Homo sapiens: one gene and its partners. The protein of the gene in region 1 purifies or fractionates together with the protein of each later gene. This does not show direct contact. Each region holds a gene or a part of one and is shown in the gene's direction. Other genes may lie near its edges.

Region 1 (3,652 bases):
CCTCTATCACCCTCAACCCCGGGCTTTGCTCACAGGTGACCCTCCGACTGGACACCCACCCTGCCATGGTCACCGTGCTGGAGATGGGGGCTGCCCGCCACTTCCTGCGCATGCAGCAGCTGGCCAAGACCCAGGAGGAGCGCGCACAGCTCCTGCAGCCCACGCTGGAGATCAACCCCAGGTGAGGCCACGCTCCTGGCTCTTCCAGCCTGTGGGATTCCCCAGAATCCTGTGTGTGGTGTTCTTTTGTTGTGGAATGTGACACAGAAGAAAAGTGCGTGAGGCCTGTGGACATGTGGGTAACTATAAGGAGCTGTATGCAGTTTAGGCTGCACCCATGTGAAATGGAACCTGGCCAGCCCCTTACCATCCCCAGGTGTCACCTGGGAGGTTAGCCACATCCCAGCCTGTGACCATGTCCTCGTTTTGCTTTATGGCTTTGCCACCTGTGCGTGTCCTGGACATGCTCAGTTTTGCCTGTTTTGAGCTTTGTACGTGGATCTTGGTGTTTGCTGAAGTCTCACGTTGCTCACTTGGCATGAGGGTTGCCCATGCAGAGGGGCTGCCACAAGTTCATTTTCATAGCCGAATAATGTCCGCTGCAGAAACCCACCTCGGCACAGCAGACTGCTCCGTTCTGCTCTGCTGGGCCTCCGGTGGTTCTTGGTCAGAAGTTGTGGAGAGCCAGGCTGCTCTGAGTATTCTTGTCCACGTGTCTGGGGCTTGTGTGGGTTTCTCTGTGGCCCCGGTGGTGGGAGCTGCTTCCAGGGTGCACCGAGAACCCCCCAGCCCTGACAGTGGCTGAGCCGTAAGATTTCCCTCGTTTCTTCCTGTTGTTCTTTATATGCCCTTTATCTGTTGTAAATGTCTTTTCACCTGCCTTTAGGTATCTTTTGAGTTTCTTTCTTTTTACAGTATCACTTCTTTGCACCCATGAATGTGATCTATTTAGGTCTTTAACATCCTTTGGTACCTTACATTCTCTGTAGGGTTCTGGTACCATTTTTAAAGAATTATTCTTTGATGTGTCTTATGGGGTATTTTAAAATTTCATTTTCTAACTTGTATATGAACTAACTTGTATATGAAGTTTCTTTTTTGGGGGAAATTTTGAATGTAGCAATTTTTTAAAAAATGAAGTTACATAAACATGTTACCAAAAATAGAAAACAGCAAAAAGGAAATCAAAATCCATAGACTTACCACCCCCCCCACAATGTAGCCTAAGTAGTATTTTAATTTTTGAGACAGGGTCTCACTCTGTCCCCCAGGTTGGAGTGCAGTGGGGCAATCTCAGCTCACTGCAACTTCTACCTCCTGGCCTCAAACAATCCACCTGCCTTAGCCTCCCGAAGTGCTGGGATTACAAGTGTGGGCTACCACCCCCAGCCAGTTTTTGTTTTGTTCTTTAGTACATGTCTAGTTTTTTTCTTTTGTCATTTTACAACCATAACTTTTAAAATTATACTGGAGGCGAGGGAGATGCATCTTCCTAGCCATGGCACTCCTGGGGAAAGGCTGACTTGGCTTATGGCTGTCAGTGCACAGCAGCGCCAGTATGCAGAATGCCTGTGCCTCTGCTGGAGCAGCTCAGTGAGGCGGACACCAGGTCACTTTAACTAGTTTTGGTGGCAAACTAGTTTTGTGAGATAGCTGCAGAAGTGCTCGTTTCTGTCTGTTGCCACTTCACTTTTGGAGACAGGGTCTTGCTCTGTCACCTAGGCTGGAGTGTACCAGTGGCGCCATCAGAGCTCACTGCAGCCTTGGCCTCCCAAAGTGGTGGGATTACAGGCGAGAGCCACTGTGCCCAGCCAGCTTCACTTTCATTTGTTTTAAAATTTGGTGTTCTGTCCACATAGTTCAGAATTCAAAACTGCTTACAGGGGAAAATTTCCTCCTACCTGTGTCCCCAGTGCAGCCAGCATTAGGGCTTTTGTATTTCTGCAGAGATTATGTGCATTTGTGGGCAGCTGCGCCCGTGGGCTTCCAAGGGGGAACTTGCTGTGCAGTGGGTCCTTGCCTTGCTTTTCTCCCTTAGGGTAACTAGGTGACCTCCACATTAGCATATTAAGAATGTCCTTTTTTTCCAGCTACGTAGACTAGAAATGTGAGGATGTGCATTTGAAGTGTTTCCTCTGTTAGGTTGGGTGCGGTGCCTCACGCCTGTAATCCCAACATTTTGGGAGGCCTAGGCGGGTGGATCACTTGAGGTCAGGAGTTCGAGACCTCATCTCTACTAAAAATACAAAAACTAGCTGGGGGTGGTGGTGGGTGCCTGTAATCCCAGTTACTTGGGAGGCTGAGGCAAGAGAACCTCTTGAAACCAGGAGGCTGCGGTGAGCCAAGATCATGCCATTTCACTCTAGCTTGGGTGAAGGAGTGAGAGTCTATCTATCTATCTATCTATCTATCTATCTAAAAAAAAAAGTGTTTAAAGGGATGCAGTTAGGAAATGGAATGGCTGAGTCTCAGCATATCATCCACATGTGGTTTTCCCGACTCCAGTTGTCCTCTGGAGAGGTTGTACAAATTTACAGTTCCCCAGAGCCCTCGGTTTTATCAGACTTCTAAGTGAAAAATTATAATATTCATGTTAAGGTTAAATACTACATGATGCTTTTTCCTATGCAGAAAAAAATATTGTTCTGACGTCAAATATGTCAATCATTCTTTACTTTTTGGTTTGTGGTTTTGCTTGGAAAGGCTTTCCCCTTCTGAGATGATGAAACATTTCTTCCCTAGAATTGTGCTTGTCATCTTTGATCCCTCTGGAATTTACTCTGGTCTAAATGGTTTTCTGCATGGCTCCCAGTCATCCCAGTGCTGCTGGATGGAGTGATCTGTCTCCTCCCTCTTCTGTGAAATACTGTCCTCATCAGACACTCAGTGTCCACCCTCGTTACATGGAGTTGTTTGCCTTCCCCCTTTCCAGACCTAAACTGTTTTATTTACTAGAGCCCTATAATATGTTTCAACATGTGGGTCTTACTCCCTTCTCTTTTATTATTTATCTAGGAACCAAGGCATGTCTTCACGTACTAAGCTCCTTTTGTCCCTTTAGTGTATATTAATCTTGGAGTTTGGCTACCTTACAGCATTTTCTAATACTGACACTCCTGATTCTCTTGGGTTTTCTGGGTATATAATGATATTATCTATAAATGATCATTAACATACCTTATTTAAAAAACTACAGACAGTCTTACTGTGCTTCTTTAAATATCCTGATAATCCCAAAACATGAAGGGAGGGTCACAGCACGTGGTACTGAGCTGCTTTTTCTGGTGGGTTCTGTGTTGCAGGCACGCGCTCATCAAGAAGCTGAATCAGCTGCGCGCAAGCGAGCCTGGCCTGGCTCAGCTGCTGGTGGATCAGGTGAGTGCAGCAGCTTAGGATGACTGCAGGGACCCAGGCTACCAGCCCTGCCAGCCTGCCTTCAGGGTGGAACAGCGGTTTCCTCTAAAATCCTGTCTTTTTGTTTGTTTGTTTGTTTTTTGAGATGGAGTGTTGCTCTGTTGCCAGGCTGGAGTGCAGTGGCGCGATCTTGGCTCACTACAACCTCTGCCTCCCGGGTTCAAGCAATTCCCCTGCCTCAGCCTCCCGAGTAGCTGGGACTACAGGCATGCGCCTGGCTAATTTTGTATTTTAGTAG
Region 2 (3,652 bases), on another chromosome or scaffold:
ACCTGCAGTTTCATGCTCAGAAAAATCTTGAACAATAGTTAACTGTGGCCAAGTACGTCACTTTACTTGCCTCAGTGGGTTAAGATATCCCTCCTTTCCCGGGGAAATCTCTCTGGGCTTGGTCAGCCACTGTGTTGTGACCTAGAGTGTCTGAAGTGCCTGTGGCCTGGAGCTCCGGGGCTGAGAGAGATCTGAGCATAGGAGTTTGGGTCCTGAAGTTCTGAGTGGCCCCTGGAAGTAGATGTGACAGTCGAGTGAGAAAAGGGCTTAGGAAATGGTGCCCTGAGAAATGACAGCCACTGAGGCCGAGGAAAGGGTCTATATCAGAGACAGATGTGTAGAGGGGGCCTGGAGCCAATCCAGGAAATCCAGGAGGAGGGGCAATGCACAGTGCCACATTCTCGAGGGGACAGATAACACCAAAAGCATCAGGAGAGAGAGAAGGGAGATGGGGGAGCCAGAGACAGGAGCCATACCCATTGTCCATGGTCACCTCCTGGGCACCTCCACAGATCAGCTTTTTCATTAAGTGCCTGCTCTGTGCCTATCTGGGGCTGGGGACAGTGCAGTGACCGAGTTAGCCTCAGGTCCTGCCTGCATCGGCCTCACAGTCCAGTTGGAGAGACAGACTTGTCACCATGCAGTGAGGACCCAGAGCAGTCAGAGCTCAGATAGAGGATCCCAGGGGTCTGGAGGTCAGGGAAGGCTTCCTGGAGGAGGGGACATCTGAGTTGGGATTCTCCGGTATGGAAGACAGATGAAAGGGAGTGAGTCTGGAGGGAGAGAGTTCAGGGAGGAGACGGAAAACGATTCTATGTAACCCAAGAGTAGATTCACACCAGTGGGTAGGATGTACTTCCAGGAATAAAATTCCTGACAGAAGTCAGGAAGAGGATATTAGGTTAACATTTACAAACTGAGCATTTTCTCCCTTACTCTGTCATTGCCATTCTCCCAATCCTGTCAGTTGAGTATTTTGACCCCCAGTTTTGATAAGGAAACACCAAGGCTCAGCTTGCGAATCCAGAAAGTGACAGAACCAGGATTTGAGTCCAGGTCTGTGCGACTCCAAAGGTCTTGCTGCCATTTATTAAGGCCGGCCTCGTGTTAAGCCCAGGGAGCTTTGAGAACCTTGAGAATGTGTCTGACCCAGCCTATGGTTCAGGGAGGGCTTCCTGGAGGAAGGGACAGTCCAGCTGAGATCTAAAAGAAGAATTGGGAAAAGACAGGAAGAGAGAAATGGAGGGGGCCAGGTGCGGTGGCTCACACCTGTAATCCCAGCACTTTGGGAGGCTGAGGCGGGTGGATCACGTGAGGTCAGGAGTTCGAGACCAGCCTGGTCAACATGGTGAAACCCTGTCTCTACCAAAATATACAAAAATTAGCCAGGTGTGGTGGTATGTGCCTGTAGTCCCAGCTACATGGGAGGCTGAGGTGAGAGAATCACTTGAACCCGGGAAGCGGAGGTTGCAGTGAGCCGAGATTGTGCCACTACAGTCCACCTGGGACAGCATGGCGAGACTCCATCTCAAAAAAAAAAAAAAAAAAAAAAGAAAGAAAAAGAGGGAAAGAAGAGAGAGAAGAGAAAGAAAGAAAAGAAAAGAAAGAAAGAAAGACCATTGTCCATATTCTTTTAAGTAATAGAGAAAGTAGGAATACTGACTTACTCATTTTATGAGTCCAATAGAATACTGATATCAAAGCCTGATAAAGTCATTACAGAAAAGGAAAATTATAGGTTAAGATCTCTCATGAAGTTGGAGTTAGGCCAGACACGGTGGCTCACACCTGTAGTCCCAGTACTTTGGGAGGCCAAGGTGAATGGATCACTTGAGGTCAGGAGTTTGAGACCAGCCTGGCCAACATGGTGAAATCCCGTCTCTACTAAAAATACAAAAATTAGTCGGACATGGTGGTGGGCGCCTGTAATCCCAGCTACTTGGGAGGCTCAGGCAGGAGAATCACTCGAACCCGGGAGGCAGAGGTTGCAGTGAGCCAAGATCAAGCCACTGCACTCCAGCCTGGGCAACAAGAGCAAGACTCTGTATCAAAAAAAAAAGCACCAAAGTCTCATGAAGCAGCACTCAGAGGGTCTCCTCTCTGCCTTAGTCACACCACACTGGAGAGTGTTTCCATGGCCACTGCATTGCAGAGCGGAGATCATGCCACTGCACTCCAGCCTTGGGGACAAAGCGAGACTCCGTCTAAAAAAAATAAAAAAAAAAAACAGCAGAACATAGAATAATAAAAACTGCATACAAATCCCCTGTAGAAATGGGGGAGCGGAGAAAGGGCAGGCCGCATGGGGGCAGAGTGCTCACCTTTCATAGTGGGGCTGGATTATGAGTAGGTAACGATGGCGTAGATCTGAACAAACCTCCAGTTGAAGAGCTCAGAAATGAGTGAGGTATGCTTACTATGGGCTGTCCAGGAGATGGCGCTAGGGGAAAACAGGCTGGCGACCGCAGTAGTTGAGGGTTCCTCTGAGGAGGGGACTTTGGCTTTACATTTTATAGTTTGAGTACTTTGTTTTCTTGCCATGTGTTACTTTTATTTGCGGCAGGAGTTGGGGGTGGGGCGACGGGGAATGGTAGGTTTGTTCTTTTCTTTTCTTTTTTTGAGACAGTCTTGCTCTTGTTGCCCAGGCTGGAGTGCAGTGGCGTGGTCTTGGCTCACGGCAACCTCCACCTCCTGGGTTCAAGCGATTCTCCTGTCTCAGCCTCCCGAGTAGGTGGGATTACAGGGGCCTCCCACCACGCCCCGCTAATTTTTTGTATTTTTACTGGAGATGGGTTTCACCATGTTGGCCAGGCTGGTCTTGAACTCCTTACCTCATGATCTGCCTGTCTCAGCCTCCCAAAGCGCTGGGATTAAAGGCCTGAGCTACCGCGCCCAGCCAGTTTGTTCTTTTCTTCTCACCAATTCCTTCTGATTGCTGCGTGGGGGACAATTGCAGAGGGGTGAGGCTGGGGCCGGCAGGTGGGAAGGAGGCTGGAGGCGGGACTCACTTATGTGTTAAGCTTAGATCTAATGAGCATCATGCGTGTGCCTGGCCTGGCACTGGGCAGTGCTGGGGACACAGCAGTGACTGTGACAGCCCTGGGCCCCACCCTTGTGAGGCTTACAGGACAGTGGGGAGACTGATTGCAGACAGGTAACTGGATAGCCACTATTCCTGGTTGTGATAGGCACTCAGAAGGGGATAGACAGGCTGTATTCCTCCTATTCAGGAGGTCAGGGAGGAGAACGTTGGTCAGAGCTGGGATGGATCCTGGACCAGGACAGCAGAAGGGAATCCACTGGGAGAGATGTTCAAGATGCAGAATGGACCCGACACGCAGCTGAGAGGCTGTGGGAGAAGGGGAACAGCTGGGCTGAGGCCCCCGTCTCTAGCCAGGGGACAGGTGTGGGGCCAGGTGCTGGGTTCAGGTTTGGATGTGCTGAGTGTGAGAGGTCTAGGAGACATCTGGAGCGTGTTGACCCCCGCAAGTCTGGTGAGTCCTCCAGCTTAGCCTGTCCCGGCCCCTCACAGCTGTCCCTTCTAGAATCACAGCCCTGTGATTCATCCCCACCTGGGCCTTGTTTCCTGAACCCCACATCTGACCGCTGGCCCGAGGGAGAATGCCGTCGGCCCCTGCTCTGAAAGCCCTGA
Region 3 (3,652 bases), on another chromosome or scaffold:
TAGGGACTTTATCATATTAATATCACTTCTTTTCTAGGGAATGACTTCTGAGGAATAAAATCTTATTTTATATTTTGGCATATACAGTATTTGTTTACATGTCAGTCCCTATACTCCCATCCCATCCCCAGACTACAAGGCATTTGAAATAAGGACTGGGTCTTATTGTGTAAATATAAATACAATTCTCATAAATACATTTACTAATTATTCTTATCTGTTCAGTGAGTTTGCTGCTTGGTAGAATTTATAGGTGCATATTAAAAGTTTACCTTTTTAGTAATTGAGTTTTTCTAAATCATTCACTTTTACTTTATAATTTGTATTAATTTGTTCAAGGTATCTAGCAGAGTGGAAAAGGATTATAATGATCTTTTTGATGGAGATGATATGAGTAATGCTGGTGATTTTCTAAATGACAATGCAGTTGAGATCCCTTCTTTTTCAAAAGGGATTATAAATGATGATGAGGATGATGAAGACCTCATGATGGCTTCAGGTCGTCCTAGACAGCGAAGTCACATCCTAGAAGATGATGAAAACTCAGTTGGTAAGAATTTGACTTTGTGCATGTGATTACCCTGTTGATTAATATTTTAGATTTTTTATTAACACTATTAAAGTCATTATTGAATTTGTAGAATGTAGCTAAGTGGTGCTTAGAGGAAATTTTATAGCATTAAATGACTTTGTTAAAAAAGGTTTCAAATCTATAATCCAAGCTTCTGCTATGGCAGACTAGAAAAAGAGAAAACTAAACCCCAAGCAAATGGAAGGAAATAATACAGAGCAAAATTCAATAAAATTGACAACAGAAAACCTATAGAGAAAGTCAATGAGACCAAAAGCTGGTTCTTTGACAAGATCAATAAGGCCGGGCACGGTGGCTCACGTCTATAATCCCAGCACTTTGGGAGGCTGAAATGGGCAGATCACTTGAGGTCAGGAGTTCAAGACCAGCCTGGCCAACATGGTAAAACCCTGTCTCTACAAAAATACAAAAATTAGCTGGGTGTGGTGGCACGTGCCTGTAATCCCAGCTACTCAGGAGACTGAGGCAGGAAACTCACTTGAACCCAGGAGGTGGAGGTTGCAGTGAGCCGAGATCGCGTCAACTGCATGCCAGCATGGGCAACAGAGCAAGACTCCATCTCCAAAGAAAAGAAAAGATCAATAAAATTAATAAATATCTATCGTGGTTGATCAATAAAGAGAAGACACAAATTACTAACATAGAGAATGAAAGAGAGGTGGGCCATCACTATAGATCTGTAGATTTGTGCTATCCAATATATAGTAGCCACTAGCCACATGTAGCTGTTGAGCACTTGAAATGTGGTTAGTTCAAACTGAGATATGTTATGAGTGCAACCGGATTTTTTTTTTTTTTTTGAGGCGGAGTCTCACTCTGTCACCCAGGCTGGAGTGCGGTGGTGTGATTTTGGCTCACTGCAACCTCCGCCTCCTGGATTCAAGTGATTCTTGTGCCTCAGCCTCCTGAGTAGCTGGGATTACAGGCATGCGCCACCACGCCTGGCTAATTTTTGTATTTTTAGTAGAGATGGGGTTTCACCATGGAGTGCAACCAGATTTTGAAGACAATATGAAAAAAAGAATGTAAAAATCTTGGGAAATTTTTTATATTGAGTACATGTTGAAATGATAATATGTATTTTAAATGCACTATATTATTAAGATTATGGCTGTTTCTTTTTACTCTTTAAACTTTAGAAATATTAGAAAATTTAAAATTACAGCTGTAACTCACATTATATGTCTGTATGGCAGTGCTACTATTAATATCAAAGGCATAATGGCAATATTATGAATAACTTTGTGCCCATAAATTTAACAACTTAAATGAAATAGACGAATTTTCTGAAAGACACAAAGTACCACTGCTAACTCAAGAAGTAATAGATAACCTGAATAGTATTGTATCTATTAAAGAAATTGAGATTGTAATTTAAAATCTTCAAATAGAGTGCTTATTGTAACAACTTACATGCTACAATAACACTTGAACATTATCAAGTAAAATGAAGAAATTGAGATTGTAATTGAAAATCTTCAAATAGAGTGCTTATTGTAACAACTTACATGCTACAATAACACTTGAACATTATCAAGTAAAATGCCAATGTGCAGTGCTATGTTGTGCTTTTTAAAGTCATATAGAGTTTATAGAACAGCAGTCCTCAAATGTTTTGGTCTCAGTAGCCTTTATACTCTAAAAAATTTTGAGGACCCTTCCGAGAGCATTTATTTATACAGAGTTACGGCTATCGTCATTTACATATTAGAAATTAAAATTCAGAAATTTAAAAATATTTATTCACTTAAAAATAACATTAATAAACTCATGTAAACATGAATAGTACTTTTTTATGAAAAACAAAAAAAATTAGTGAGAAGAGTGGCATTGCAATCTTTGTAATGTCTATCATAGAGGATAGCTGGATTCTCTCATCTACTTTTCTGGATTAAGTCTATTGCTATACATTGTTTTTGTTTGAAGTGTATAAAGAAAATTTGGCCTCACATAAATATGTAATTTGAAAAGGGAGAAGTATTTTAAGAAATCTTTTAATAGCACATTCAATTAATTGTGGATATTCTTTGATGTTGCACCAAGACTCAGAAGATGATCGTTTCCTAAAGATTACTTGCAAAGTGTAATCTGAAAACTTCAGTGAACTCTTACGGCTCTGTTATGTTAAGATTCATTGGTCTGGCTGGGAATGGTGGCTCTCACCTGTAATCCCAGCACTTTGGGAGGCCCAGGCAGGAGGATTGCTTGAGGCCAGGAGTTCAAGACCAGCCAGGGCAACATAGTGAGACCTCCTCTCTACAAAAAAACTTTAAAAATTAGCCAGGTGTGGTGACGTGTGCCTGTAATCCCACCTACTTGGGAGGCTGAGGTAGGAGGATCTCTTGAGCCCGAGAGGTCGAGGCTGCAGTGAGCCATGATTGCAACAGTGGGCTCCAGGCAGGGTAACAGAACGAGACCCTGTCTCAGAAAAAAACAAAATAAAATCAAAAAATTCATTGGTCTGACTTGAATGTTGAATGGATTTTTTAAAATCATGTTTAATTTTGTAACATATGAATTGATAATATTGGTTCACTGAAGTTTATAGATCCTCTTTATACTGACACTTTTTATTATCTAATATAAATTATTTGTTTTTGTTTTTAATTAATTATATGTTGTTTTTAATTAATTAATTTTTGTTTTTAGAGATAGCATCTTGCTCTGTCACCTAGGCTGGAGTGCAGTGGTATCATCACACCTCACTGTAACCTTGAACTCCTGGGCTTAAGCAGTTCTCCCACTCAGCCTTCCGGGTAGCTAGGACTACAGATGCATGCCACCATGCCCATCTAATTTTTTATTTTTTGTAGAGATGGAATCTTGCTTTGTTGCCCAGGCTGGTCTTGAAATCCTGGCCTCAAGTGATATTCCCTCCCCAGCCTCCCAAAGTGCTGCAATTACAAGCGTGAGTCACAGCACCTGGCTGTAAATTATATCTGCTAGTGTTGTTACCAATCTCATCAGTAGTTTCTAAGTATTAGAAAGTTGTGAAGCTCATAATGGCAAATAGAAGCTTTCCAATATCTTAATTTTTAATTGAAAGCTCAAATTTCTTGT

Evidence for each region.
Region 2: the proteins of TRAP1 (region 1) and OPA3 purify together in Homo sapiens (co-immunoprecipitation; one large-scale study listed by IntAct). This does not show direct contact.
Region 3: the proteins of TRAP1 (region 1) and WDHD1 fractionate together in Homo sapiens (co-fractionation; one large-scale study listed by BioGRID). This does not show direct contact.

The regions. Positions count from the first base shown.
Region 1 is NC_000016.10:3,658,516-3,662,167, reverse strand, and holds part of TRAP1 (heat shock protein 75 kDa, mitochondrial isoform 1 precursor), read left to right. Parts: intron 1-35; coding exon 36-181; intron 182-3,302; coding exon 3,303-3,375; intron 3,376-3,652.
Region 2 is NC_000019.10:45,557,298-45,560,949, reverse strand, and holds part of OPA3 (optic atrophy 3 protein), read left to right. Parts: intron 1-3,652. UniProt on the Homo sapiens protein: May play some role in mitochondrial processes.
Region 3 is NC_000014.9:54,992,501-54,996,152, reverse strand, and holds part of WDHD1 (WD repeat and HMG-box DNA-binding protein 1), read left to right. Parts: intron 1-339; coding exon 340-550; intron 551-3,652. UniProt on the Homo sapiens protein: Core replisome component that acts as a replication initiation factor. Binds directly to the CMG complex and functions as a hub to recruit additional proteins to the replication fork.